7 linked regions of the Homo sapiens genome follow. The protein of the gene in region 6 purifies or fractionates together with the protein of the main gene of each other region. This does not show direct contact. Each region holds a gene or a part of one and is shown on either strand. Other genes may lie near its edges.

The links.
Region 1: the proteins of SLC9A1 (region 6) and STX12 purify together in Homo sapiens (co-immunoprecipitation; one large-scale study listed by IntAct). This does not show direct contact.
Region 2: the proteins of SLC9A1 (region 6) and AGPAT3 purify together in Homo sapiens (co-immunoprecipitation; one large-scale study listed by IntAct). This does not show direct contact.
Region 3: the proteins of SLC9A1 (region 6) and HTR1E purify together in Homo sapiens (co-immunoprecipitation; one large-scale study listed by IntAct). This does not show direct contact.
Region 4: the proteins of SLC9A1 (region 6) and XXYLT1 purify together in Homo sapiens (co-immunoprecipitation; one large-scale study listed by IntAct). This does not show direct contact.
Region 5: the proteins of SLC9A1 (region 6) and SLC30A4 purify together in Homo sapiens (co-immunoprecipitation; one large-scale study listed by IntAct). This does not show direct contact.
Region 7: the proteins of SLC9A1 (region 6) and ACVR1 purify together in Homo sapiens (co-immunoprecipitation; one large-scale study listed by IntAct). This does not show direct contact.

Annotation. Positions count from the first base shown.
Region 1 is NC_000001.11:27,814,405-27,818,680, reverse strand, and holds part of STX12 (syntaxin-12), read right to left. Parts: intron 831-4,276; coding exon 758-830; intron 1-757. UniProt on the Homo sapiens protein: SNARE promoting fusion of transport vesicles with target membranes. Together with SNARE STX6, promotes movement of vesicles from endosomes to the cell membrane, and may therefore function in the endocytic recycling pathway.
Region 2 is NC_000021.9:43,979,967-43,984,242, reverse strand, and holds part of AGPAT3 (1-acyl-sn-glycerol-3-phosphate acyltransferase gamma), read right to left. Parts: intron 3,255-4,276; coding exon 3,056-3,254; intron 1,940-3,055; coding exon 1,851-1,939; 3' UTR 1-1,850. UniProt on the Homo sapiens protein: Converts 1-acyl-sn-glycerol-3-phosphate (lysophosphatidic acid or LPA) into 1,2-diacyl-sn-glycerol-3-phosphate (phosphatidic acid or PA) by incorporating an acyl moiety at the sn-2 position of the glycerol backbone.
Region 3 is NC_000006.12:87,009,936-87,014,037, forward strand, and holds part of HTR1E (5-hydroxytryptamine receptor 1E), read left to right. Parts: intron 1-4,102. UniProt on the Homo sapiens protein: G-protein coupled receptor for 5-hydroxytryptamine (serotonin). Also functions as a receptor for various alkaloids and psychoactive substances.
Region 4 is NC_000003.12:195,225,818-195,230,093, forward strand, and holds part of XXYLT1 (xyloside xylosyltransferase 1), read right to left. Parts: intron 1,040-4,276; coding exon 892-1,039; intron 1-891. UniProt on the Homo sapiens protein: Alpha-1,3-xylosyltransferase, which elongates the O-linked xylose-glucose disaccharide attached to EGF-like repeats in the extracellular domain of target proteins by catalyzing the addition of the second xylose.
Region 5 is NC_000015.10:45,481,660-45,485,260, forward strand, and holds part of SLC30A4 (probable proton-coupled zinc antiporter SLC30A4), read right to left. Parts: coding exon 3,504-3,601; 3' UTR 1-3,503. UniProt on the Homo sapiens protein: Probable proton-coupled zinc ion antiporter mediating zinc import from cytoplasm potentially into the endocytic compartment. Controls zinc deposition in milk.
Region 6 is NC_000001.11:27,106,421-27,110,696, forward strand, and holds part of SLC9A1 (sodium/hydrogen exchanger 1), read right to left. Parts: intron 3,358-4,276; coding exon 3,107-3,357; intron 1,446-3,106; coding exon 1,228-1,445; intron 1-1,227. UniProt on the Homo sapiens protein: Electroneutral Na(+) /H(+) antiporter that extrudes Na(+) in exchange for external protons driven by the inward sodium ion chemical gradient, protecting cells from acidification that occurs from metabolism.
Region 7 is NC_000002.12:157,764,374-157,768,649, forward strand, and holds part of ACVR1 (activin receptor type-1 precursor), read right to left. Parts: intron 1,824-4,276; coding exon 1,548-1,823; intron 1-1,547. UniProt on the Homo sapiens protein: Bone morphogenetic protein (BMP) type I receptor that is involved in a wide variety of biological processes, including bone, heart, cartilage, nervous, and reproductive system development and regulation.

The sequences.
Region 1 (4,276 bases), 710 kb from region 6:
TCCAGCCTGGGCAACAACAGCAAAACTCCGTCTCAAAAAAAAAAAAAGGGTTACTAACCCCATAATTTTGCAAGTTTGTTGAGATAAAAGCTGGGAAGCTGAGAGCTATTTCTCTAAACAAAGATGTACAAAGAAGTCAATGGGACTGAGTATTCATGAGGCCTCATTTAACTTCTACATTTGATAACATAAAAAAATTGCTACGAAAAATAAATTTGGTAATTTTTAAAACGGCATTCCTAAACATACTTTAACTCTATAGCTGATATGACTAACTCCATTTTTTTTTTTTTTTTAATTGAGACGAAGTCTCATTCTGTCACCCAGGCTGGAATACAGTGGCGCAATCTCGGCTCACTGCAACCTCCACCTCCTGGGTTCAAGGGATTCTCCTGCCTCAGCCTCCCGAGTAGCTGGGACTACAGGTGCATGCCACCAGGCGTAGCTAATTTTTTGTATTTTTAGTAGAGACGGGTTTCACCGTGTGAGCCAGGATGGTCTCCATCTCCTGACCTCATGATCTGCCCGCTTGGGCTTCCCAAAGTGCTGGGATTACAGGCCTGAGCCACCACGCCTAGCCTAACTCCTTTTTCTTTCTTTCTTTCTTTTTTAAGAGACAAATTCTCATTATGTTGCCCAGGTTGGCTTCAAACTCCTAGATGGTGCTTCAGCCTCAGCCTTCTGAGTAGCTGGGATTACAGATGCATGCCAAATACTATCAACTCACCTTGAGGTTAAAGGTATCAATAATACATACCAATCAGATCACCCTGGTCATGGATCATCATGGCCAAATCTTTAAATATCTGATTGACATCCAAAATGTCAGCCTAAGGAAGACAAAAAACAATTAACTAACATTAAGCAACATGTTAGAAGATTTGTTTCCCTCACGTACCTAAAGTTTTAGCTATTAACACGTGTGTTTTTAAGGCTCTACAAAGCATGCTTTCTCCATAAACAGAAAATAATCTATTGCTGCCTACCCAATATTGTAAAACAGAAGGCACATAAACTCACTCTTCAAGCAACATTAATGGGACATGCTACATGAGAACCAGTAAGAGCGCCCAAGTCCAAACAGTACAGCAGAAGGCTGGAGTGCTGATATAGACAAATTCTTGGTGTGATAGCCCTATGTGGAGACTGCTAGGCCTTGTGACAAAAGCCTGTTGAGTGCCTCCCGATGACAACCACTGGGACTTTGGACTACAGAATTTAAATGTTTATACAAGATCATGCTATCTGAGGAATGCAAGGAGGAGCTACAAGTAAGGAGCCTCTTTTCCCCTGGGATTGACTCTGGAACTGTGTGAGGAGTTGCTGGATTCTGTCATCACTGGACAATGCCCTATGGTAACTCCCAACTGACTGACAAAAAGCTGATGGTCTGTGGATAGCAGTTCCAAAGTGAATGGACTACAACCTATTTACTGCTCTGATCAAAGAAGGTAAACACAAATCAGCTCAGTGGGCTGAACTGCAGCTTGTTTTCCTAACAGCAGTGGAAGAATTTAACATTGGCAAAATCCCCTATATTTGGGTCTTTCTCCCTCCCTCCCTCCTTCTCTCCCTCCCTTTCTTTTTTCTTCCTTTTCTTTCCTTCCTTCTTTCCTTCCTTCCTTCCTCCCTCCCTCTCTTTCCTTCCTTCTCTCTCTCTCCCTTCCCTTTCCTTTCCTTCCTCCCTCCCCTTCCTTCCTTTTTTCCCTCCCTCCCTTCCTTCTTTCTCCTCTCTCTTTCCTTCCTTTCTCTTTCTTTTTTTTTTGAGACAGAGTCTTGCTCTGTCACCCAGGCTGGAGTGCAGTGGCACAATCTCGTCTCACTGCAACCTCCACCTCCCGGATTCAAGCAATTCACCTGCCTCAGCCTCCTGAGTAGCTGGGATTACAGGCCCATGCCACCACGCCCGGATAATTTTTTATTTTTAGTAGAGACGGGGTTTCACCATGTTGGCCAGGCTGGTCTTGAACTCCTGACATCGTGATCCACTGCCTTGGCCTCCCAAAGTGCTGGGATTACAGGCATGAGTCACTGTGCCTGGCCTCCCTCCCTCCCTCCCTTCTCTCTCTATCCCTCCCTCCCTCCCTTCCTTCCTGATCCGCCTGCCTCGGCCTCCCAAAATGCTGGGATTACAGGCATGATCCACCGCGCCCAGCCTCCGTCCCTTCTTTCTTTTTATTTATTTTTATTTATTACTTGTTTTTTTTGAGACAGAGTCTTGCTCTGTCATCCAGGCTGGAGTGCAGTGGCACAATCTCAACTCCCTGCAACCTCCATCCCCTGGGTTTGAGTGATTCTCCTGCCTCATCCTCCCCAGTAGATGGGATTACAGTCGTGCACCACCACGCCCGGCTATTTTTTTTTTCTGAGGTAGAGTTTCACTCTTGTTGCTAGGCTGGAGTGCAATGGTGCAATCTCGGCTCACTGCAACTTCCGCCTCCTGGGTTCAAGCAATTCTCCTGCCTCAGCCTCCCAGGTACCTGGGATTACAGGATGTACCACCATGCCTGGCTAATTCTTTATATTTAGTAGAGATGGGGTTTCACCATGTTGGTCAGGCTGGTCTCGAACTCCTGACCTCAGGTGATCCACCCACTTTGGCCTCCCAAAGTGCTGGGATTACAGGCGTGAGCTTGTACTGTGCCCGGCCCTAATTTTTGTATTTTTAGTAGAGACAGAGTTTCACCACATTGGCCAGGCTGGTCTCGAATTCCTGACCTCAACTGATCCGCCTGCCTCGGCCTCCCAAAGTGCTGGGATTACAGGTGTGAACCACCACGTCTGGCCTATATTTGAGTTTTTCTGACTCATGATCAGGCAGAAGAAAGACAATGGAAACCTGTCTTATTAAAGGGGTGCTCATATGGGGCATGACCCTATGGAAATTTGAGGGCAATTCCCTTCCAGGTTTGAAGGGTTATTGGAATCATAACCTGGCAAGCATTTCAATCACTTGCTAAGAGTCTACTATAGTGGACTATCTGCTAAAGCAAGTCTTGTCAGCATTTCAATCACTTGCTAAGAGTCTACCATAGTTGGGGTAGTCTGCTAGTTGCTGTGAATACAGCTAACTGGGGTGGACGTGGGGAATAAGTGCACAATAAAATAAATAAGAAGGAAGAGTACTATATAGGAAATGGCTGAATTAATGGTATAGAAAGGTGTGGAGAAAAGGAAGACTCTGCAGAAGAGGTAAGACATGAGTTGTGCCTTAAAGCAAAGGAGAGGTCATATGAACAGAAAGGCAACTCAGTTAAAGAGCAAATAACCTAGCTTTGCCATAACATAGAATGTGTATGTCAGAGTTTGGAAATTACTAGATACGAAAATTGAACCTAGGCTAAGGAATTTGGACTTTCCTCTGTTGAATATGAAATGATCCATTATACCCTGGCATCCATTACATTTCTTTCCTTAGCTCCATATGTCTCACTCCACTTTGCTATAACGGTACATTCGTCCCTTGGTATCCGTGGGGGATTGGTTCCAGGACTCCCTCCCTCTAAGTCACTGATATAAAATGGCATAGTATTTGCATATAACTTGTGCCCATTCTCTCCTATATTCTAAATCATCTCTATATTACTTATATAATGTTACATTACTATTTTATACTACATTACTATTTTACATAGCACTTACATTGTATTAGTAATGTACTGAACTAATACAATGTGTTATATAAAATACTGTTACACTGTATTGGTTTTTACATTTGTATTATTTTTTATTGTTGTATTATTTTTTAGTTTTTTTTAAATATTTTCACTCCACGGTTGCTTGAGTCTGAGGATGTGAAACCTAAATATATCGAGGGCCAACTGTATTTTTTTTTTTTTTTTTGAGACAGAGTCTCGCTCTGTTGCCAGGCTGGAGTGCAATTGCTCACTGCAACCTCCGCCTCCCAGGTTCAAGCACTTCTCCTGCCTCAGCCTCCCCAGTAGCTGGAATTACAGGCATGCACCACCACACCCGGCTAATTTTTTGTGTTTTTAGTAGACACGGGGTTTTACCATGTTGGTCAGGCTGGTCTTGAACTCCAGACCTCAGGTGAGCCACTCGCCTCAGCCTCCCAAAGTGCTGGGATTACAGGCATGAGCCACCGCGCCCGGCTAGTAATTTTTCTTTGAAGGAAGGATTATTATTATTATTTGAGACAGAGTCTTGCTCTGTTGCCCAGGCTGGATTGCAGTGGCACGATCATGGCTCACTGCAGCCTTGATCTCCTGGGCTCAAGTGATCTTCTGCCTCAGGCTCCTGAGTAGCTGGGACCACA
Region 2 (4,276 bases), on a different chromosome or scaffold from region 6:
CACGGCACAGCTGCCCGAGTGGGCGGGTGGAGGGATGAGATTTCAGATGGAGGGAAGCACATTTCCAAAACAACAGTGTCTGCAAGCGTGTCTCGCATGGTGTCGTTGGTCTCATCTGGTTTCGTTGGTCTGCCCCTTCACCCCTGCGAGGAGCCGTGCTCTGAGCAGGTGTGCACAGGTGGCGTCCCGCACACGCCCTGAGAGCACGGCCCCCACAGACCCGGGGCCCGGCAGCGCCTCCATCATGCAGAACGCTGCCGTCCCCTCCAATCTCCCCAGGACACTTAGGCCCGATGCCTAATTATGTTCTCGGTTTACTTTTCTTCATGCCTCTTTTCTCCATTTGTTTTCCCCTAGAAAACTCAACCTACCTCTATTCAGAACGCTGGTTTCAAGATATCAGAGATAACACCCATTTTGGTTTTTTTACCTTGCTAAAAAGATGAGGGCGCTGTGACTTAGAACAAGCAAGTCGAAAGCCAAATGCAGGTGGGCTGATGGTACCGCAACCAAGTTGAGCGTTCTACCACTGCCATTGCCCCAGGGGCCCCACCTGGCCATGCCGGGGGAGTGGACATGCTGTAGGGAGAAGCATCCCTCGCTCGGCGTGGGCCAGGGGCTCGCTGCAAGGCCAAGGGAGCCAGCATGACCGGCCGAGCGCTGCCCTCTGCTCTGCCTGGACTCTCAGAGACGTCCAGGAGGTAGGGAGCTGGGCGCTCAGGGGTGGCCGGGCCACAGTGACACCGGCCAGGATGGGGGCGGGCCTTCCCCAAGGACACAGTGCGAGGCTGGGGGGTGGGGGGTGCCCCACCTCTAGTTTCCAGCAGGAAGTTGAAAACCACCAAGAGATCAACCAGTAAAAATAAAATCTCTAGAAGTCAATGAGCTCAGTGTTAACAGTCTCCAACCACCTTTAAAAAACAGAGGGTTGACGGTGCCGTCGCTTCTTCTGAAGCATCCTAGAGTCCCACAGGCTGCCCTGTTCTCCCTCCTTGGCTCCTGATCTGTGGGATGGGGGGGCGCGCGGTAGCCCCGAGGGTCCTCCCTCCCCAGCACCCAGTGTGGAGGGACCAGGATCTGACAGCCATGAGAGCGACAAAGGAGCTTTAGGTGCATGGAGAACTCTGCATTTCACTGAGTTCTCAGGGGCCCATCCACTTTAAAAACAGATGTACGTATTTACACACAAGGTCAGATAGGAGCTAGGACAGACAGGGCTCTAGAAAGTGAGGTGGGGCGTTCGCCCTCAGCCAGCCCCAGGACAGGGCAGAGTGAGGGCTCCGACTTCGAGGAATGGACCTGACGTTCGTGCCGGTGTGCTTATCACTACGGGCGCCCTCCACGGGGCCCCCACTGGGAGCCAAGGTGCTGAGCCGAGCGATGCTCCCGGGGGACGGGACCCGGCCGTCCACTCCCAGGAGGACAGCAGAAATTCATTACGAGACAGTTTCGGGGGCGGGGGGTGCAGAAGAGGTGAGGGGCCAGGTTAAGTTCCCAAGATAACTGATTAAAAACCAAAAAATTTGATCTAAGTTTAAGGAGAGAAAGCAGCCAAAGGCTCCCTCTTGGAAGCGGAGTTCTGGAGAGACGGCGTCCGCGGGAGGCCTCTCCGGCCGGACCCACCTCCCACGGGCGCGCGTGGAGATGCTGGGACCCTGCGCTGTGGGAGGCTGAAGACTTCACCTGACAGGCCTTCTGAATTCTTTACTCTTGGCTCAAGTTTTGTTAATATTAGTCACCAGTTAATAAGAAAAATAGTTTCTAATTGTCTTTTCCTGCACTCTGTGTGTTGGTTTTGAGTTAACTGGATACCACCGTCAGGGCCGCGTGTGTTCAGTCACAGCCATTAATTATTCCTTTTTCTTAAACTCTTGGTTTCCGTAGCTGGAGCCTTTTTCTATCTCAGTTACTCCTATCAGTCTGCGAACTCCAAAGGAAGCTTTCAAGACAGGAGAGAGAGAGAAGAGGTGAGACGGATGACTTTGCCTTTTTGCTGTAAAACGTGTTACTGGGGCTTCCTTCCTCTGCCCCAGACCCTGTCCCTCTGCCCCGCACCCAGTGGCCTCTGCTGTCAGTGAGTAGGTGTGGCCCGCGGGGAGACAGCCCTCTCAGACCGTGGTCTGCTCAGGCAGGGGTGAGGGGCACGTCTTCTGACCGGCTGGGTCCGAGGCAGGTGGACACGTGGACCTTGCCCTGCCTGCCCCTCTGGGTCTTTGGCTGGTGGGAGCAGAAGGGCTTCGGGGCATTCTAACAGCTCGGCCTTGCAAACCCAACAGGTGACAGAGGTGGACGAGCAGGACCCTCGGATGTAAGCAGGTCACATCCTGTCCTCTGTGGGTGGCCTCAAGTCATCTCGTAGTCCAATGGGAGAGGCTGGTGGCAGTCACTGCCTCTCAGGACCCCTCCCACCAAGGCCCCTGGCAGGGGCGGCAGGAGCAGGGGAGGAGCTGGCCCAGCTGCTGGGCCTGGGGAGTCGGCTCACGGGGCGATGCACACGGACTGTGTCTCCACGGACAGAGACCCCTCAATTACGGGGTGTGGGTGGGCGCCGGAGCTCACCACAGGGACAGGCTGGGTGTCTGTTCGGCCCCAGGCTAGCTGATGAGTCGTGGTGGGCCTGGCATTGTGCCTGGGGTGGGCACACAGTGGGGAAGTCACTGGGGGTCAATGGGGAGGAGCTGAATGATGATGTCCTGCTTAAACCTCCCGAATGGCCAGCCCAGCCTGACCCCTAAGAGCCCAAAAGCAGACAGGGGGGCTGGGGACCCTCTCGGGGACCCTCTCGTCGGCATCCTCAAGGGCGCCAGCCAGTGGGGCTGCAGTGGGGATGGCGCCAGGTGGCGGCCGTTCGGCTCTCTGGGGAGGCGACCCTCAGCTCAGTGCAAGAATCCAGGCTCTGAGGCCCGCAGGCCGTGGGGGGATCCTGGCTCCAGGGTCCATAACAGCCAGGCCCCTGCCTCCCACAGCCACTGTGATGAGTCACCAGGTCCCGGACCCTGTGGCTGATACTGTGAGGCCCGTCAGAGTGTGAGCTGTTAGCGACAGTGTCCATTACCTGCTCCCACAAACCCCAAGAAAGTCAGGATCAGGAGAGGTGATCCGCTGGCAAAGACGCCCAAGACAAAACTGAAGAGGGGAGACAGGAGAATGGTGGCCCAGGACAGGAAGTTCAGGAGGGTCCACGGCCTCCGGGCAGGCTTAAACTGCTCCCCTGGAAACATGCCCTTCTGATTATATATCTCCTGGAGCGCGTCCTAGAAGAGTCAACAGAGAAAAAGGAAGCGTGAGGCTTCTTTACAAGCTATTATTTCAATGCAGGAGAAGATTGTTGGCAATGAAAAACGACTCAACCTAAAAAAAGCGCCACGTCAATTAAGAGCACAAATCACAGAAGCTGCAGGTGCAGGCGAAGCTGGCTGTACGTTTTTGGAGAATCTGATAGCGTGCATCGAGAGCTCGCAAGCATATCAACCCTTTGACTGAGGAAGTCTCCCAGGAAAATAATCGGTCAAGAAAGCAACGTTGTGAATACCAACACCTGCCTGCCCAGCACTGCCCCGGCCACCCGCCACATCCCACACCTCCCACGAGCCAGAGGCAGTGGGGGTGGCAGGTGTGGCCTGTGTGAGTCCCGCGGCCTGGATGCAAATCCCTGCAAAGCGCACTCTCAGCTGCACGGCCCAAGGAAAGTTCCTTAACCTCGCATACCTCGGTTTCCTAGCCTGGCAAAGGAGGCTAATGAGGAGCTGGGAGGAGAGAGGAGCCTGGCCAGGGCCACCTGCAGAAGGTTCTGCCTCTGGTGGGAATGTCAAAGGCACAGGCTGGCAGGAAATCACCATGCCTGATAGAGCAGACACTCCGCAGCCACTGCCCGTGGGCGGGGCAGCCCGTGGGACTCTAGGATGCTTGGGAAGTAGTGAAGGGCACCATCAACTCTCTCGTTTTTTTTTGTTTTTTTTTTTTTTTTGAGATGGAGTCTCACTCTGTCGCCCAGGCTGGAGTGCAGTGGTACGATCTCGGCTCACTGCAACCTCTGTCTCCCGGGTTTAAGCGATTCTCCTGCCTCAGCCTCCTGAGTAGCTGGGATTACAGGTGCCCACTACTGCGCTAATTTTTGTATTTTTAGTGGAGACAGGGTTTCACCATGTTGGCCAGGCTTGTCTCGAACTCCTGATCTCGTGATCCACCCACTTCGGCCTCCCAAAGTGCTGGGATTACAGATGTGAGCCACCACACCTGGCCGACCCGCTCTCTTTTAAAGATGGTTGGAGACTGT
Region 3 (4,102 bases), on a different chromosome or scaffold from region 6:
CCTCACTTCCCAGTAGGGGCGGCCGGGCAGAGGCGCCCCTCACCTCCCAGACGGGGTGGCTGGCCGGGCGGAGGGCTGACCCCCCCACCTCCCTCCCGGACGGGGTGGCTGGCCAGGCGGGGGGCTGACCCCCCCACCTCCCTCCCGGACGGGGTGGCTGGCCGGGCTGAGGGGCTCCTCACTTCCCAGTAGGGGCGGCCGGGCAGAGGCGCCCCTCACCTCCCGGACGGGGCGGCTGGCCGGGCGGGGGGCCGACCCCCCCACCTCCCTCCCGGATGGGGTGGCTGGCCGGGCTGAGGGGCTCCTCACTTCTCAGTAGGGGCGGCCGGGCAGAGGTGCCCCTCACCTCCCGGACGGGGCGGCTGGCCGGGCGGGGGGGCTGACCCCCCCCACCTCCCTCCCGGACGGGGCGGCTGGCCGGGCGGGGGGCTGACCCCCCCATCTCCCTCCCGGACGGGGTGGCTGGCCGGGCTGAGGGGCTCCTCACTTCCCAGTAGGGGCGACCGGGCAGAGACGCTCCTCACCTCCCAGACGGGGTCTCGGCCGGGCAGAGGCGCTCCTCACATCCCAGATGGGGCGGCGGGGCAGAGGCGCTCCCCACATCTCAGACGATGGGCGGCCGGGCAGAGACGCTCCTCACTTCCTAGATGTGATGGCGGCTGGGAAGAGGCGCTCCTCACTTCCTAGATGGGATGGCGGCCGGGCGGAGACGCTCCTCACTTTCCAGACTGGGCAGCCAGGCAGAGGGGCTCCTCACATCCCAGACGATGGGCGGCCAGGCAGAGACACTCCTCACTTCCCAGACGGGGTGGCGGCCGGGCAGAGGCTGCAATCTCGGCACTTTGGGAGGCCAAGGCAGGCGGCTGCTCCTTGCCCTCGGGCCCCGCGGGGCCCGTCCGCTCCTCCAGCCGCTGCCTCCCGGGCGGCGCTCGCCGGCCTATACGCCACACTTCTTATCGCCCTCCTTGTCTGCAATTTATTTAAGAAACTGGGTGATTTAACCCGTGAATTTTTTTACAGTTTGGATTCCAATGATTGCATAATCAAAAGGTAGTTTAACATGTTTCTTGATTCTCTGTGGTTTCTTTAAAGTAGTTATTGGTCTAAGATGCTTAAACTTTTAATACATTGACTTTAGACAGCTTCAACTCCATTTGCAATAGCTACTATGTGACCTCTGAATTTTTGGTAGGCAAGAGGTAAAGCAATTGCAGCCCAGAACATCATGTGGAGCCAGGAAATGCTGCTAGGAGAGAGGGTGGCTAAGCTGACAGAGTTGAGGGCAGTTTTCCTGGATCAGTTTAGAGGCCATGTGCAAAACAGAAACCTTGCAGCAGGAGGGAATGACTTATCAAAGGGAAGTGGTATCTGGAAGTGTCTAGGAATGGACAGAAGTCAGTACTTAACACAGGTTGACTGGGAAAATGCTGGGAAGTAAATAGAGAAAGGCAAGTATACCCTGGGTTCCTTCAAAGCAGTTCAGGAAAATATTCTCTAAATGATGGTGGTTACATGCAACGTAAATGAGTTGATCAGGAATGCTCCAGGTCCACCAGCATGTTAAACTTTTAATGGTTGAGACGTTATATAATATTTTCTGGTAATTCAAAGTCTTAGCAAAACTTTGTGGTAAGGATATTTGTCCCATATTTCAGATAACTCTAAGAATGCTAGGAAAGGGGAATATGTCAACAAGAAATGTTACATGTATGGCTGGATGCTATTTTCTATTTTTTCCCTTTCCTTCAGTCAAGCATGTGGCCTGGTTTATGCTTCCTTACCTCACAGATATTTCAGAAAGCGGAAGTATCAGACAGTAATCCCTATTTATGTTCTCAAAAGCCAAGCCCATAGGAGATTTATTAATAAAAGATTTGTAAATAAGTAAAAAAGGAAAAGAGAGCTTTTAATAGGTGGCTGAAAGGGTTAGAAAAAAAAATGAAGGAAGAAAGGAATTTCTCCAATGGTCTACATACCTTTCCCGCGCAAAATGGAGGAACAGAAAAGATCCTGGGGGTCTAAGACTTGGGCCAGAAGTTCTGGAAGTGCCTTGAAGAGTCTATAATATTTTAAAAAGGGATACATGCATGGTGTGGCTAGGGACTTAGGGGCTAGGCATGGGGTTCCCAACCTTAGGACATTTCCTAAGCGTGTTACGGAAGCAGTCTGGGGATCTGAAAGAACTGTAGGAGTGGGGGACAGTAAATATCTTACCAGGGACTTTCTCTGTGCATGCAACATCTGAAACCCCTCTCCCCAACCAAACCTCAATGCCTTGGCCCTAAATAATCCTCCAGAGACTTGGGGGTGTGGTTGGGGTTAGAGAAAGTCTCAAGCATGAGAAGTGAGAAGCTTAGAAGCAGCAATTAGGTTGACACATGTTCTCACTTATAACCGGGAGCTAAATATTGAATAACACATGAACACAAAGAAGGGAGCAATAGATACCAGAGCCTACATGAGGGTAGAGGGTGAGTGGAGGGTGAGATTTGAAAAACTACCTTTTGGGTACTATGCTTATTACCTAGGTGGTGAAATAAGCTGTACACCAAACCCTGCAACACACAGTTTACCCATGAAACAAATCTGCACTTGTACCCTCAAAACCTAAAATAAAAGTTGGAAAGAAAAAAAAGAAAGAACAAAATTAAGTTGACTTATTTTTAATAGGCTTTTATTACACATCAGAGTTTGTGGGATGAAATCTGTCTCCATTACCCAATGCAAAAATCACTGGGAAAATTAGTATAACAAATGACCGCAAACACTTACATAGTACTTACTATGTATTAGGCGTTGTTCTCAGCTTCTACGTGTATTAACACATTTGATCTTCACACTACTTACTTTAGAGAAAGATGTCATTATTCCTGATTTAAAGAGGAGGAAATTGAAGCAGGCTAACGTTAAAGAACATGCTTAGGATTACACTGCAGCTGACAAGTGGCAGGGTCAGCATTCAGAGTCCATGTGGGTAGTCACCACTCCAAGCTTTCTCTCCAAAACCGCTGACTCAGGCACACTTTTTAGGTTAAAGTAAATCAGGACTTATGAAGTGAAATGTCAGTTTTCTAATGGAGGAACCAGATCCAAAATATAAAACCCTCTTTAAGATAATTTTTAAGATGAGCAGGTGCCAGCTGACTCCTCCTTCTTGATAATGCTTAGGTGCTTTGGAAACTCTTCCTGGATGAGAAAGAGATTCTTGTCCCTCTTCATCTGCTGCAAAGGACAAAGCCCCAGAAGAATAATATGCCAAAGTCGGCCTTAACATCTATCATCCCTATAACCTCATCTCCCTGGTGCTCTGACCTTCACTGGGATGGTATAAAGCAGAGGCTCTAGAGTATCCCTGGAAATGAGGAGCAGCGTACACTAACCAGTTTGGTTTAGAGTAATTCTCTCCTATTTGTAATTTTTATGAAAAACAATTTAAATATGGCCTTGGACTCATGATATTTTTTATGTCACAATAAAGTGGAAATTTAAAGTTACAAATCCCCAAAAAGGTCCTCCATCAACTCCTCATAGGATGTATCCATTTTTAGCTCTGATTATTGCAGTTAACTTTCCAAAGTGCTGGGATTACAGGTGTGAGCCACCACGCCAGCATATTTACTGTGAAAGTTTAAAATCTGATTTGAAAGCTGCTTATTATAAGCAATATAATTTTTTCTTTAACGGCCCCAGAATGTTTAATGTTACATAATATGAATATATATTTTCAAATGTAAAAAAAAGCCTTTTTATATATAAACATGTATAAAAGAATAAATATAAATAAGAAATTAATTGGGGTGGCAAAGTACATTTAAAATTTTGTGATGTTTTTGTCAAAAACGATTTGAACAAATTTATAGGAAAAAAACAAACAACCCCATCAAAAAGTGGGCGAAGGATATGAACAGCCACTTCTCAAAAGAAAACATTTATGCAACCAACAAACATATGAAAAAAAGCTCATCATCACTGTCATTAGAGAAATGCAAATCAAAACCACAATGAGATACCATTTCACGCCAGTTAGAATGGTGATCATTAAAAAGCCATCATTCTGAGCAAACTATCGCAAGGACAGAAAACCAGACACCACATGTTCTCA
Region 4 (4,276 bases), on a different chromosome or scaffold from region 6:
CGGTTTTATAAGGGGCTTTTCCCCCTTTTCCTTGGCACTTCTCCTTGGTGTCGGCATGTGAAGAAGGACGTATTTGCTTCCCCTTCCATGACTGTAAGTTTCCTGAGGCCTCCCCAGCCATGCTGAACTGTCTATTAAACCTCTTTCCTTTATAAATCACCCAGTCTCAGGTATGTCTTTATGAACAGCGTGAGAACAGATTAATACACTGGTCAATATCCAGGGCTCCAGAACCCATTAAGGATCACTGTAGGGAGATCCTAGAAACCAGACACACTCTAGGAGTTAGACCCTCCAAGGCTTCCAGTCCAAGCATGACCAGACCTGCCAGAAATTCCACATAAGCTGGACCTATCACACACTGGATGATGCATCTCTCTTTCCTGGAGACAGACGCCCAGAAAATCCTTCTAATTGCGCATCAGAGTTTCTTCAGAAGTTCTACATGGTCGTAATTTGCACCTCTCACATCTAGATTTGCTATTTTAAAATCAGATAAATACAGATTCAAACTAGAAAGAACAAGAGCATAAATTTGGATGGAGGATCATCTAATCCAACCCACCATTTTTCAGATGAGCAAACAAAGTATGGGGGTTGAGCAGTGGGGAAAGAAGGGGGCGAGTGCAAGGGGCAGAGTCCAGACCAGAGCCCAGAGACCCCCTGTGTCCTCATAAATGGACCCCGGGAGCTATGCAACCAAGGCCCTGCCCTTGATTCTTGGTGTAGGAAGCTCGGTGGTACAAAGGGCTTGGTCTGGCTCCCTCGTCCACTCTTTCATGTTCAGTGGAGCTATTCTCCCTGATACAGGGCCTGGGCAGTGTTGGAACCAGGGAAATGGATGCAAAAGTCAGACACCCAGGGGCTATTGCTCCTGGAAGCCCAGGTTACCTTTGGGCATGATCTGATGCATGGCGACCGAGAGGAAGAAGATGGAGTCACTGTAGTAGGTTCCCAAGCCAGCACTGAAGTGCTTCTGCATGGCCTCCACGATGGGGAAGAGCTTATCCGTCAGCACAGCAACATCGTGGAAGATGACCTGCAGCAGGTGCAAAAAAAACCAAGGCTCAGCAAACCAGTTCTCACTGCAAGCTCAACACCCAACAAGCACCTGGGCCCACAGAGGCAGAGGCAGACAGTGCCTCTCCAGGGTCCACAAGCAGGGGATGGGGCTAGGGGTAGCAACGGAGAGTTAAGGAAACGAGAAACAACCAGGAGTCAGAATTGAGGCCGCACTAAGGAGATGGGGACACTGTGTGAGGGGTGGCATGCAGGCATGCATGTACGGGCTGTGCAGTGGAAGAGAAGTGGGAGGACAGGAAATGGAAACAGCCCCTAGTCTGCTTCCTGCTTTTGAACATGAAGCTGGGCCCCCCTGAAGGTAGCTCTGTGCCCAGCGACTGGAAACCACGTGAGAGTGTGTGATCCTCATCACATTGCATGGCTAACACTGCTCCAGGCATCGCCACCTCCTGGTGGCCACTGCATCTGTTCCATAGGCCAGTCCGATGCTCCAGCTCTACCTCCCTCATCCAACAGTGTGAACAAGGAGAGGGTCTGGCCACTGGAAAATGGAACCCGGAAACTGCTCTGTGCTGCAGTAAACTCACACTCAACTAGCATTTCTTGAGTATCACTGACACTCTGGAGGCACTGTGAGAAGTATAAGGAATAACCAGGTACACTTTCCTCAAAGCACTTAGAAGTCCAGAGGTATAATCAGCTACGGCAGAGCTTTGCAATTTATGAAACACTCTCACATACCCACACTGATCCCCACGACAACCTAGGGCTTCTGTGAGGCAGACATCACTATTATAGCCTCCAAATTACAAATAAGGACGCAGACACTCAGACAGGTTACACTTGCAGCAAGTCACACAGATAATAAATGCAGAGTCAGAACTTGACCCTGGCCTCCAGATTCTCAGCCCCACACTCTTTCCACCATAAACGCATCCTCATTCCTTAACAGCAACCAACAAAGGATGAAGACATCAGCTCAACCCGCGATTAGAGCAGACAAGAGTACTAACGCGATCCTGAGTTGGGTTTCCTTGTCTAACTCTACTCCAGAAGATGAGAAGTATGGCCCATGCGCAGCCCCAGCTTCACATGTGATACCAGATGACCATGTACTGGTCCCACAGGTCTTGCAAGTTTTTCCTGTTGTTCCATGTGCCCCCACAGGATCTAGATCCTTCTACGACACACAGGAGGCACTCAAGCCAGAAGGCTGGGTGTTCCTCCACCTTCTTCCTCAGTGCTCCTAAGAGTTCTGCAAGCGCCACCTCCCGCCACCATCTTCTCTGGTATGTGACAGGACAAGCCTGCCACACTGCATCCTAGCTGCTCAATCACCACCTCATCAACTCCGAAGAGCCCACCTGAACAGGTGCCAGCAGCAAAAGGCAAAGCCACGTGAACCCCTGACTGCCCTGTTTACACTGTCACTTGCCCTGCCAGACAGTGGCAAGTGGTGCCCTTGAAGCTCTCCAATAGGCGGGCTCCACTCCATCACTCACCTTTCCCCTTTCCCTCCACCTGCCCTTCCAGTCTCAGGGTGCTGCCTGCACTACCTGCACTTCCAGAGCCATCGGTGGTCGTGGCCCTGTAAACCACCGTCTGCTCTTCCCTACTGTTGGTTCTGCTTTTGGCCTATATTTCACTTTTTTTTTTTTTTTTTTTTTTGAGATGGAGTCTCACTCTGTCAACCGAGGCTGGAGTACAGGGGTGCAATCTGGGCTCACTGACACCGCCTCCCGGGTTCAAGCGATTCTCCTGCCTCAGCCTCCCAAGTATCTGGGACTACAGACGCCCGCCACCACCCCCAGCTAATTTTTTGTATTTTTAGTAGAGATGGGGTTTCACCATGTTAGCCAGGATGGTCTCGATCTCCTGACCTCGTGATGCGCCCGCCTCGGCCTCCCAAAGTGCTGGGATTACAGGCATGATCCACCACACCCGGCCTATTTCCCTTATTTCTTCTATATGTATCTCTTTTTTTTTTTCGAGACAGAGTTTCACTCTTGTTGCCCAGGCTGGAGTGCAGTGGCGTGATCTCGGCTCACTGTAACCTCTGCTTCCCAGGTTCAAGTGATTCTCCTGCCTGAGCCTCCCAAATAGCTGGGATTACAGGCGCCCACCACCATGCCTGGCTAATTCTTCTACTTTTAGTAGAGACAGGGTTTCACCATGTTGGCTAGGCTGGTCTCGAACTCCTGACCTCAGGTGATCCACCCACCTCAGCCTCCCAAAGTGTTGGATTACAGGTATGAGCCACCGCGCCCGGCCTGTATCTCTTACATAGCTTATTTCTCTTATATTTCTTTTTAACCTATATCTCTCTTAGTTCACCTTTCCTTTTATTCTTGGGTCTCTTTTAATTTCTAAAACACTATTAAATTTAGAAAAACTTTGTTACTATTTTTTTATTTTTAATTTTTGTGGATAGAGTATGTATATATATTTATGGAGTATATGAGATATTTTCATACAAGCATACAATGCATAATAATCATATCAAGGTAAATGAGGTATCCATCACCTCAAGCATTTATCCTTTGTGTTACAAACAATCCAATTATTTTAGTTATTTGAAAATGTGTAATTAAACTACTTTTTACTGTAGTCATCCTATTGTGCTAGCAAATACTAGGTCTTACTCACCCTTTGCCAATATTTTTTGTATCCATTAACCATCTCCTCCTCCCCCAACTCACTCCACTACTTTTCCCAGCCTCTGATAACCATCATTCTAATCTCCATCTCCACGAGTTTAACTGTTTTAATTTCTACCTCCCACAAATAAGAACATGCAAAGTTTGTCTTTCTGTGCCTGGCTTATGCCACTTAACAAAACGATCTCCGGTTCCATCACTGTTGTTGCAAATGACAGGATCTCATTCTTATTTATGGCTGAATAGTACTCCATTTTGTATATGTACTGTTTTCTTTTTCCATTCATCAGCTGATGGAACCTTAGGCTGCTTCCAAATCCCAGCTATTGTGAATAGTGCTGCAATAAACATGGGGGTGCAGATATGTCTTCGATATACTTAATTCCTTTCTTTTGGGTATATATCTAGCAGTGGGATTGCAGGATCATATGCTAGCTCTATTTTCAGTTTTTTGAGGAACCGCCAATCTGTTCTCCATAGTGATTGTACTAATTCACACCAACAGTATATGAAGGTTCCCTTTTCTCTACATCCTCACCAGCATTTGTTACTGCCTGTCTTTTGGAGAAAAACCATTTGAACTGGAGTGAGATGAT
Region 5 (3,601 bases), on a different chromosome or scaffold from region 6:
AGCTGAGAAGTGTAATGCATGGTTGTAGCTCAACAAGTGAAGGATAGACCAAACGCTTTTTGTCAGAAGTCATTCAGTCCTTGGTCCTATCTGCTAAGTTAATGTCCTTTTCTGTGGGTTAAGTTACAAAAAGTGAAATCAAATTCTCAAATCTCATAGACTCCGTAAGGTAAAGATACAAACTATGTACTTTTTCCTACAAAAACAAAGCACAGGAAACTTTATGTGTACCTCACTTTAAGCAGAACACGATAGTTAAGATTTACAGAAGTTTTCATGGCTGGGTGCGGTAGCTCACACCCTGTAATCTCAGCACTTTGGGAGCCCGAGGTGGAAGGATTTCTTGAGCCCAGGAGCTCAAGACCAGCCTGGGCAACATAGGGAGACCCCATCTCATTAAAAAAAAAAAAAAAAAAAAAAAAAAAAGATTTACAAAGGTTTGCAGTGTTTCTGTATTTTACAAAAGGATTCTTTTTGGCTGGGCACAGTGGTTCATGCCCATAAGCCCAGCACTTTGGGAGGCCGAGGTGGGCAGATCACTTGAGCTCAGGAGTTCAAGACCAGCCTGGGCAACATGGTGAAACACTGTGTCTACCAAAAATACAAAAAATTAGCTGGGTGTGGTGGTGCATGCCTGTGGTACCAGCTACTTGGGAGGCTGAGATGGGAGGACCACTTGAGCCTGGGAGGCAGAGGCTGCAGTGAGCCCAACTGTGCCACTGCACTCCAGCCTGGGTGACAGTGAGACACCATCTTAAAAAAAAAAAAAGAATTCTTTTCAATACTCAAATGAATTTTAGCCTGTTTTATCAAATACATTTTTTAAGGAACAGGTCGATACAAAAGCGAGATATGCCTTTATAAGATAAAGAAAAGTTTACAAGAAACAAGCTCAATAGATATAAAAAAATGATTAGAGTATGATGAATATTTTTTTCCTTTCTACTTGCTAGATACTCAAAGTCCATAAATATGTCCAGATGTCCACTGAAATATCTCTCATTTATTCTTACTTGGTTTCTATATGTAAGAATATTTTGATTTAAATAGTTTATATGCTCCTGAAATTTCTGAGAAATTCAAGTCATTATTTTAAATGACTTCACAATAGGAATCCCATCATGTATATTTTCTTTTCCTTTTTGTTTTTGAGATAGGGTCTCATTTTGTTACTCAGGCTGCAGTGCAATGGTGTGGACATGGCTCACTGCAGCCTCAACCTCCTGGGCTAAAGCACTTCTGCCACAGCCTTACAAGTAGCTGATACTACAGGTGTGCACGACGCCTGGCTGATTTTTATATTTTTGTAGAGACAGGGTCTCTACAAAAGACCAGGCTGGTCATGAACTCTTGGCCTCGAGGGATACTTCCACCTTTGCCTCCCCAAATGCTGAGATTACAGGCATGAGCCACTGTGTCTGGCCACATAAATTTTCAGTTCAATTCAACAAACATCTACTGGGTTTCATTAGAGGGACCATCAATCCTTTTATTGACACCATTAACTCCCAACAATCTTATAGGTAAATCTGGGTTTTCTTATCTTAGGTTTACTTATAGTAAGGTACTTGGTAAGAAGATAAAATGTTTCCTATTCTTCATTTATATTGTAAGTCATCTGCATGCTTATCTAGAATTTCAACTTACAATTTGCCTGGTACATTGTTACCCTACTCTGATTCTTAGAGGAGCCCAATAACCATATCCATTCTTCGTGTAAGAAACTGTCACTGTTGAAAAGGGACTCCAAATGTGCATAAAAGATAATCTCAAAACCAATGGTTGCAAAATGAAACATGAACAGTCAAGCTGCCTCTTTAACACAGGCATTTACAATTAGGTTGCCTTCAGTTTGGAAACCTCTGTTTAGTTTCCCTGCAACACAGATTTAATGTCCATCCCTATCTAGTGCTTTAAAACACACACATACAGGCCAGGCATGGTGGCTCATGCTGTAATCCCAGCACTCTGGAAGGCCAAGGCAGGCGGATCACCTGAGGTCAGGAGTTCAAGACCAGACAGGCCAATGTGGCAAAACCCTGTCTCTACTAAAAATACAAAAAAATGAGCTGGGTGTGGTGTACCTGTAGTCCCAGCTAGTTGGGAGGCTGAGGCAGAAGAATCACTTGAACCCAGGAGGCAGAGGTTACAGTGAGCAGAGGTCACGCCACTGCACTCCAGCCTGGGTGACAGAGTGAGACTCTCTCAAGAACAAAAACAAAAACAAAACCACACACATATATAAGGTCAAAAATCCTTTACATTTCTGTTTTCTCAAAGTAATATCTTCCCCCAACCCCTTGGACATTTCTGCTATGGTATTATTGGAAAACCTCAAAATTGTATTTTAGGGTTTCTGGAGTCCATGGAGAATCCCTAACCCATATCATAAAACATAAAATATATAATAAAACATAACCCATATCATAAAACATAAAATTCTCTCTGGATTAATGTTGTTGAACTATATGTGAAAGGTGGGAATTATAAACTGAACCCTCTAGAGTTTACCCTGAAAGGCTAAACACACAGATGACCTGGAGTGGAGGCAGGAACCAACGTACCACATTTTTTGTACAAATTGTTGGCAGTTCTTAAAGGGACAGAAGATTACTGTTTACATTTTGCAGTCTCTTGCTTTTTTAAGACAATTTCATGAATGATAAAAGTGATGTCGGGAAGACATAAACCTGAAACTCCAACCCCCATCCTCGCTCTTTTATTTTGTTTTAAATCATCATATAGTAATTTGAGTTTAAGACTAACTTCAGCCATTCAGAATAATATTGAAAGTATTTCCTAAATCATTTAATAACAGTGACCACAATAAATAAAGATTTGGTTCTAAGATTACAAATAATGAAAAATGTTAACTTTGAGATTCAAAACCCTGTAGCATCTGGAAAAGGTTGTTTATAAAGTATAATCATAACAATAACATTAAGACTTATGTGTGAAATAAAACATTTCTGAAACACTTAGGAATACATGCTTATTCCACTTTTGGGATAACTACTAGTACTTCCTGAAATCTGTTGGGTAGTAATTTCTGTAAAAAGAAAGCAGCAATTCCAGAAGCTGGGTGTCGAGATTATTATACATAATAAAAAAAATTCAGTTTTCCAGCACTGGCTTAATATAAAATGGCCTTAAAAAGTATTTTTAAATGCAAATATTGAATTCTTGATGCTTCCTTTAAGACACGTACTCTGTCAAGTTAATGAAGTATGATCTTGGATTGTCTTCTATGAGGTATCTGTAGAGTCACATCTCATTCTGTAAACAGTGTTTGGGAAACATCTTCATCTGAAAATTATGGCAAAGTCTCCTTTTACCATTAAACAGAGACTAGCACTGTCAGGCTGGGGCAACTGTTTGAGAGACTGATGCTTGATACGGACACAGCTGTCAGGGATTCCATTTTCTCATTTAGGTTTGCATTTATTGCTCTCAAGTCTGTGACTGCAGGATAAATAAGGCAGGAGTTCCCAAAATACATAAAATTAGGGACTAGAACTCTGACAATTTGCACAAGTTCTGTCCACTTCTTGCCTGTAACTCTGAAGCTGAATAGTACATCTATACATGCCAAATGTGTTCA
Region 6 (4,276 bases):
GTCATGATCCTATTCTCTCTACTTTTCTAAGTACTTGAAATTTTCCATAATAAAGCATAAAAAATGCAGAGGGCTGGGCCCAACCTCCACCCACAGAACCAGAATCCCTGGAGGATGAGGCTCAGGAATAAAGGGGATTTCAAAAGTGCACCAAATAAATGTGAGGTCCTGCCAGGCTTGGGGACATGGACCTAACCCTCAGAGAGGAAGTGAGAGATCCAGGGAGGAGGCGACTGAGGCACTGGGGTGAGGCATGTGGGGCACATGTGAGTGGAACCCATGCACCTGGGGCCTGGTCCCCACGTGTGCCCCGGCCTGCTGCATAGGTTTGGAGGACTGCACGTGGCTCTGCATGCGATTCGGCACATGCTCACGTCACCTGTCTTGAGACAGTGCAGAGAGCACTCAGCTCAGAGTCACAGACCTGGGTTCTGTGGGCCTCAGGCCCCTCATCAGGACAGCCACAGCCACAGGCTCAGAGTCTCAGGGCCCCCTCACTTTGACACAGCCTGACTCTGTCCCCAGAGACCACAGCCTTGCTGTGACACAGGCTTCTCCCTGCTGAAGGGCCCATCATGGAAATGGGAAGTCCCTCCTGTCTAGCTGTGCTGGGAGCAGGCAGGAGCCAACCAGGAAACCTCCACCACAAACTGCATCACACATATACCCCCAGCCCCTCCACACACACACACACACACCCAGGCCCTCTACACACACACACCCACACCCTCACAGCCCCTCCACACACACCCACACCCTCACAGCCCCTCCACACACACACACACACACCCAGCCCCTCTACACACACCCAACCCCTACACACACACCCAGCCCTTCCACATATACACCCAGCCCCTCCACACAACTATACACACACTGCACCACAGCCCAATCCCTCCACACAACACACACATATATACAAAGCCCTCCACACAACATACTACACACACACACCCCCAACCCCTCCACACACTACACACACACCATACACACATCCAGCCCCCCTACAATGCACTACACACACCACACACGCAATACGCATACACACACACACCACAGCCCAGCCCCTCCACACAATACTTATACACTGCACCACATGCACACACCACATAGCCTGGCCCTTCCACATAGTGCACTGCACACACCACACACACAGCACCACAGCCCACCACCCCCCACACACACCCCACACCACAACCCCCACCCCGCCCCAGCCCTGGCCCTCACCCAGCACGCGGGCGATGAGGCAGAAGAGCAGGGTGCTGATGACGAAGGTCCAGTTCCAGTGGTGGGAGCCGGCCACCGTGGAGACGCCGAGGAAGATGAAGATGAGGGTCTCGCTGACGCTGCTCCACATCTTCAGGAAGTATTTGATGGTGGTGTGGGACTTGTGGGAGATGTTGGCCTCCACATAGGGGCGCATCACCACTCCTGAGGCTATGAGCCTGGAGCAGGAAAGAGCGGGGTCAGGGCTCCGTGTCGAGCTGCACCTGCTCGAGCCCCTCCACTGCCAGGGGCAATGGGGCCACGACCAAGGTGCCCATGTCCCAAGCTCCTCTATGGGCCAGGGGCCCGCTGTGTGCTTTACACCCTCTTGCCACTCATCCTCACATCAACCCTATAGACACGGTGTATTCCTCCATTTTTTTTTTTTTTTTTTTTTTTGAGACGAGTCTCACTCTGTCACCCAGGCTGGAGAGCAGTGGCGCGATCTTGGCTCACTGCAACCTCCGCCTCCCGGGTTCAAGCAATTCTCTGCCTCAGCCTCCCGAGTGGCTGGGAATACAGGTGCCCGCCACCACGCCTGGCTAATTTTTTTGTATTTTTAGTAGAGACGGGGTTTCACCATCTTGGCCAGGCTGGTCTTGAACTCCTGACCTTGTAATCCACCCGCCTTGGCCTCCCAAAGTGCTGGGATTACAGGCGACGAGCGCATGCCCGGCCCTATTCCTCCATTTTTAAAATGAGTGATCTTGGCTGGGCACGGTGGCTCACGCCTGTAATCCCAGCACTTTGGGAGGCCGACAAAGGCGGATCACTTGAGGCCAGGTATTCGAGACCAGCTTGGCCAATGTAGTGAAATGCAGTCTCTTCTAAAAATACAAAAATTAGCCAGGTGTGGTGGTGGGCACCTGTAATCCCACCTAATTGAGAGGTTGAAGTGGGAGAATCTCGAACTCAGAGGCTGCAATGAGCTGAGATCGTGCCACTGCATTCCAGCCTGGGTGACAAGAGTGGGACCCCGTCTCAAATAAAAAAATGAGAGATCTGACTCTAAGAGAAATAGTCACCTCTCCCCTGTCACGCTGCCTGCAGGCAGCAAAGCCAAGACACACAAACCACAGTGTCCAACTCCAAAGCCTGCACCTTTGCCCCAAGGCCACACTGCCTCTTGACCCAATAGGAGTCAATGACACAGACCCATGGTCTCCTGGGTTCATTCCCCTCAAGCGTGGCATCTGCCATTACACAGGGGTCTCCACAGGGAGCTTTGTTCCAAGCAGCTGCTTGGAGCTCGGAGTCCTCCCAGCCCAGTGCTCACACCCGGGCTCTGCTCCTGGGAGCCAGGGGCTCTGAACCCCAGTTCTGCCTTGCTCGGCACTGGAACACCTTCACCCCTCACTGCCTCCCCACATCCCATTCTCCCCATTTCCAGACCCGGTGGAGACCTCAGGACCGCCAGGACTCAGGCCTGGTGAGCCTCCTACTGGGGCTGCTGAGGGGACTCCCTTTGAGACAATGAAGTAGCAGGGCTGTGGCTTTCCTCAACCTGAAGCTTAGTGGCTTCCAAGGCTCTGCTCTCCTATACCCTGGGCTTGCCTTCATGCAGGTCATTCTTGCTTCATCTGCTCATAGCCTGAAATGCCCTCTCCCGATTCCTGGACCCCAGGGGGCGCTGCAGAAGTGCTCCTCTTCTAGGAAGCCACTGATGCCCTTGGCCATTTAAATGGCTACCAAGCAGGTCTGGAGCCTGGAGTTCATGTCTCATCCCTGGAGCTCAAGGCTGGGCCCTGGGAGCTCCGTGAACCTACGAGCCTGGGGAATCCAAGCTGGCAGCCCCCGCCCCCACCCCGCCAAGCCCACTGCCTGCTGCACGCAGACTCACGCCATGATGCCTGACAGGTGGAAGAGCTCGGCTGACAAGTAGGCCATGTAGCTGTAGAGGAAGACGAAGAGCGGCTCGATGACCCGGATGTGGGAGGTAAATCGGGAGGTGAAGGCTGCGATGACCCCGTAGACCACGCCCACAAGCACCCCGCCCAGGGCCACCACGAAGAAGCTCAGGAAGCCGAGGAAGATGTCCACGATGCCCACGTGTTCGTAGTTGGCAAACTCCTCAAAGAGGTGATACAGGACCTGGGGAGGGTGTGCAGGCTGGTGGGTGGGAGGAGAGGGCCCTGGCCCCACGGTTCCCTGGGGTCCACCCAGGGCAATCCTGTCCCCTCCGTTAACCATGGCCACAAGAAGAGGCCACACGGTAGCAGAGAAACCCTAGTGCCAAGCAGGTGCTCAAAACCTCAGCCTGGGGCTGAGGGGCTTGCTCTGGGCCAGCCACGTGCCCCACTGGTGAAGGGTGGGCCCTGGGAAGCTCTGTGAAGACCCTGAAGCCAAACTGCCTGGACTGGAATCCTGGCTCTGCCACTCCTGAGTTGTGTACAGGAAGCAAATTCATCTCCCTGTGTTTCAGTTTTCCTGTCTATAAAATGAGGATAATAATACCAAATCTTAGGACTGCTGTGAGGACTAAATCAGCGAATCAAGTGCTCGGAGCCTTACCTGATGCAGTGTTAGCCACATCTGGTGCTATCAAGTCTGCCTCTCACTGCCTGACCTTGGGCACGTCATGCCCATCACTGGGTTTCAGTCCCTCCTTCAGCACAAAAAAGGGACGTTCACACAATGAACTAGAATGTCATTTCTTAACCTCTGGAGCTTTCTGAAAATACACATGTTCAGGCCATACTGGACTTGGACTCTCTGGGATAGGGCCAAGAAATCTCTATGTAACAAGCACCCCAGGGGTTGCAATGAACAGCCAAGTTCAGATGCTATGGAATTAGAGGCTAAGGCATCCCTGTCTCCTGGACTGGGAAATAGATGGTCATTGCAACACTACCATCAGATGTTTAAGTGGCACTTCATACACTGTAAAGCCCTTTGATAGTCTTTATCTGAGTCGACACTCAACAACCATGCGAGGCAGGTGGGTCAAGGATGCTCCTTTGCTAAACCGAGGCTCACAGTGGTAAAACAACACGCCAGGGGGCCCCCAGCC
Region 7 (4,276 bases), on a different chromosome or scaffold from region 6:
TTTTTTGTATTTTTAGTAGAGATGGGGTTTCATCACGTTCGCCAGGCTCATCTTGAACTCCTGACCTCAAGTGATCCTTCCGCCTCGGCCTCCCAAAGTGCTGGGATTACAAGCGTGAGCCACCGCGCCCGGCCACGATCACACTGTTATGCAAGTTTCTAACAACGCAGAAGTACAGGGCACAGCGTCAAGCCCTGGAGTTCCTCTTGGCTAACTCCCAACCCCATCCGCCTTCGCCCTCACTGTCCCTGTCTCACTGAGTGAAAGCAGTGTCAGCACTTGGGCCAGGTAAATAGATAAATAGACTTGCACAAAAATACAGGGTAATTGAGAAAGCCAGAATTTAAACCCAAATCGCCCTGGCTCTAAGAGCCATGGAATAAGCCATAAAAGTCCTCTACACCACAACTAAAAATGCCTGCAAAAAACTTTAGGGCCATGCTCTTTCAATGCTTATCCTAAAATCTTTCGTCTCCTACTTGGGAAACATTGTAATTTCTCAATGTAAAAGCAAAGACTTTAAAGGGATTCAAAGGAAATAAATTTTCCTAACATGTCAAATCCCTTATGTTTAAAAACAAACAAAAATAAACTTTGTTATTTACATAACTAAAGCTATTTTTGTCTAAACCTTTATCAGGCTAACAATAATTGCAATAATATAAATATCATATAAACCATGTTTAATCAAGTAGAGGGCCCTGAATTCTCATTAGCACAATTATTTAGCCAATATTCTAGGAATCCAGGAAGAACATGGTTTTATATAAAATGCCACTATAAATGAAAATACTCTTATTTATAATGCAACTAAAGCTACACTGAGTACTACTCTAACACCATAAGAATGAGCTATCCTAACAGGGAAAAGAGTGAATCAGTTCGGGGATTATTTTCCTATTTCTTAACTTGATTCTTTTGCCTTGGTTACAGAATGATTTTAGAGACCACTTTTAAGATAAACTAATTCTATAGAGTATTTATTGTGCACCTACTTTATGTGAAGGTTAGTGAAACCAAAATGCAACAGTACTGGTTACTTCTGAGGTGGGGTGTGGCAGGGACTGACTGAATGAGCCTGAGGTAACTGTCAAGAGTAATGGGAAACTCTGTATCTCGACAGGGATTTGGGTTTTACAACATTTGTCAAAACTCTTAAGATTTGTATATCTCACAGTATATAAATTTTACCTGAAAAAAAGAAAAAGCAAATAATGCATTCTTGTCAATGATATACTAGTGTACATGCTGAAATCATCAGAAGAAAGAATTCCTTTGTCTGCAATTTACTTTCAACTCTATCAAAGGTTGATATGGACTGATGGATGGGGAGATGAATAGATGAATAAATACATAATAATGCTTAAGGATAGTAAAATGTTAATGTGAGAATCTATGTGGTGGGTATAAAGGTGTTCATTGTAAATGTTCAACTTTTCTGCATGTTTGAAATTTTGCATAACATGTTGTGGGGGAGAGATGCAACTCACCTAACCATTGAAACAAAAATAAAACTGGTGAGGAAAAAAATATTTTTAGAAATTTACCCAAATCTGCTATGCAACACTGTCCATTCTTCTTAACCAGAATATTTTTGCTCTTTAAATCTCGATGGGCAATGGCTGGTTTCCCTTGGGTCCCAAATATCTCTATGTGCAAATGTGCAAGACCACTAGCTATGGACAGCACTATTCGAAGGCAGCTAACTGTATCCAGAGTAGTAAGCTGAAGATAGTCGTACAACGATCCCATTTCATGATAATGTGTAATTAACCACAGCTGGGTACTGGAGTGTCTTGATGTCATGTCTGAAGCAATGAAACCTGGAGAGAGCAAGAAAAAAATTAATATACATGAGGATTCCACATTATAACTTAAAGTATTTAGAAATAGCGACCTACACAGTAAATGTCATCTGTAACAAAAAGTAATTAAACTGACCAATTGCCCTAAGAGGAGGTTTACAGAAGCATCAACAGAGAAAAATAATAGCATTTATTCCTTAAAAGGGCACTGCTAATAGGAAAATTTCATATTCATTTCATTATAAGTAATACTTTAAAAGATATTTTACATTCCTTAAGTTTCAGATAGCAATAATATCTTTGTGCTCACCCATAATGATAGTGCCAAGCCCTTCAGCATGTTGATATTTTAGGAACAGACCATTCATCAACCATCCTAAAAGAACATCAAATCTAAAACCTGAGTACTGTATTCTAGTCCTGACTCTGCCTGTGATTTACTTGTCTAATACTGGGCAACTCAGTTAGGCTCCTTAGCCTATATCTGCTCAGATGTAAAATAAAGGGGGCAAGTTTACATTAAATGATTGACTGATTCACGAAATAAAAAAAGAAACCAACCAAATATATGAGTATTTATGATGCTATCTGTCAGTCACACACAGAAAAACCAAGATGATAGTGTTTGCTGGCTAAAGAAGACAGATGTAAAAACGAAAACACTACAATAAAATACGAAAAGTACTATAATATATATCTTCAAAGGGCAACATGAGCCCAGAGCAGGAAATTATAGTAATTCAGACTAGGTGTTACAATAGGCTTCCATTAGGAAGTGGCAACTCAACTGGTCTTGAAGTAAAGTGAGTGACTGACAAATGTGGATGAAGAGGTTGGAGAAGATTTTTCTTTTTCTTTTTCTTTTTTTTTGAGACGAAGTTTCCCTCTTGTTGCCCAGGCTGGAGTGCAATGGCGCGATCTCGGTTCACTGCAACCACCGCCTCCTGGGTTCAAGTGATTCTCCTGCCTCAGCCTCCCGAGTAGCTGGGATTACAGGGGCCCACCATCACGCCGGGCTAATTTTTTATATTTTAAGTAGAGATGAGGTTTCCCCACGTTGGCCACGCTGGTCTCAAACTCCTGACCTTCAGGTGATCCACCTGCCTTGGCCTCCCAAAGTGCTGGGATTACAAGCGTGAGACATCGCGATCAGCCCGGAAGAGATTTTTCTAGACATCTGGAGGGAACTTTTGAGCATGCAGAAGACTGTCTGGAAGTTAGGGGCACTTCCTATCTTATGAAATAAATTGTGACGTGTGCTTGCCTTTTCTGCTACAGAGGTGCCTTTCTAGGATTATTCTCACATATATGAACCACGCTGGTAGACAGTGAAGTTTGGGACTTAAAAAGAGGTGAGAAAAAAAATTTTTTAAGACGGATATGGCTTGAGGAAGAATTAAATGACTTATGAAAATGTAAGAGAAAATACATTAAAATGCTTTATACTTGCATAGTACTTTATATAAAATTTATGTCACTTTCACATATATTTTCTCATGAGATTTTTCCCAACAAGCTGGTAAGAAAGACATCATTATGCTCATTTTACAGATAATAAAGTTGGTGCTGGGAGATGCCAAGGATCACACAGCTATTTAAGTTGCTATCAACTCTGAATTTAGTGCTAGCTGTCCTGATACCTTGCATAGGAAGGCTCTGTGAGCCAAGAAAGGTCCCCTATTTGATCATCATCATCATCGGCAACCACAACAGAGGCAGCTAATAATTATTGAGTACTACATGCCTGGAACTTTATATGCAATCCTCCAAAAACCACATGAAGTAAGTAGATCGCATAATTGATATTAGGTTCCTGTAGGTCTGATTCTAGAACCCAGACTCTTACTGACTATGCCATACTGTCCCCAAACAAACTGATTTCTACTCAGAGAAAAAATAATTTCACATTTTCACCTATGGGACATATGCAAAGCAAACTGAATAATATTTTAGCACCTTCACCCTCTACTTCTTTCTCTCTCTTCCTCTAAGCCTATTCCCATGGCCAGCCCTGAGTCTCCCACTCCTTCCCTGCTCCCCAGTCTGCTTTTCCCCTCGATGCTGCTTCTCTTGGAGCCCTTAGCTGGCCACAATATGCATCAAAATGTGTTCTTGGACATTAGTTATTCTTAATAAAGAAAATGTTTCTGCTTTAACAGTTTGAACCAAATAATACTAATCTTTAATGATTTTCTTAAAAAATACCCCAAACTCTAACAGCACCACTCAAAAGAAATTAAATTACTGTTATATATCTGTGTAGCCTCTACTGATTTCCTCTCCCAAGAAAAAGGAGCTTCTGATTAAATAAATAAATAATAAACGAATACATTTTTATTATCTCACCTTCACTAAGCCCCTTAGGTCTTAGGGAAGAAGTTTATCTGTCCCATTAATTATGCTCTAGACCATCAGGAAAAAAATTACTTTTAAATAAGCAGGGTTTTCTTTTTAACTGTTTATCTCTTAAG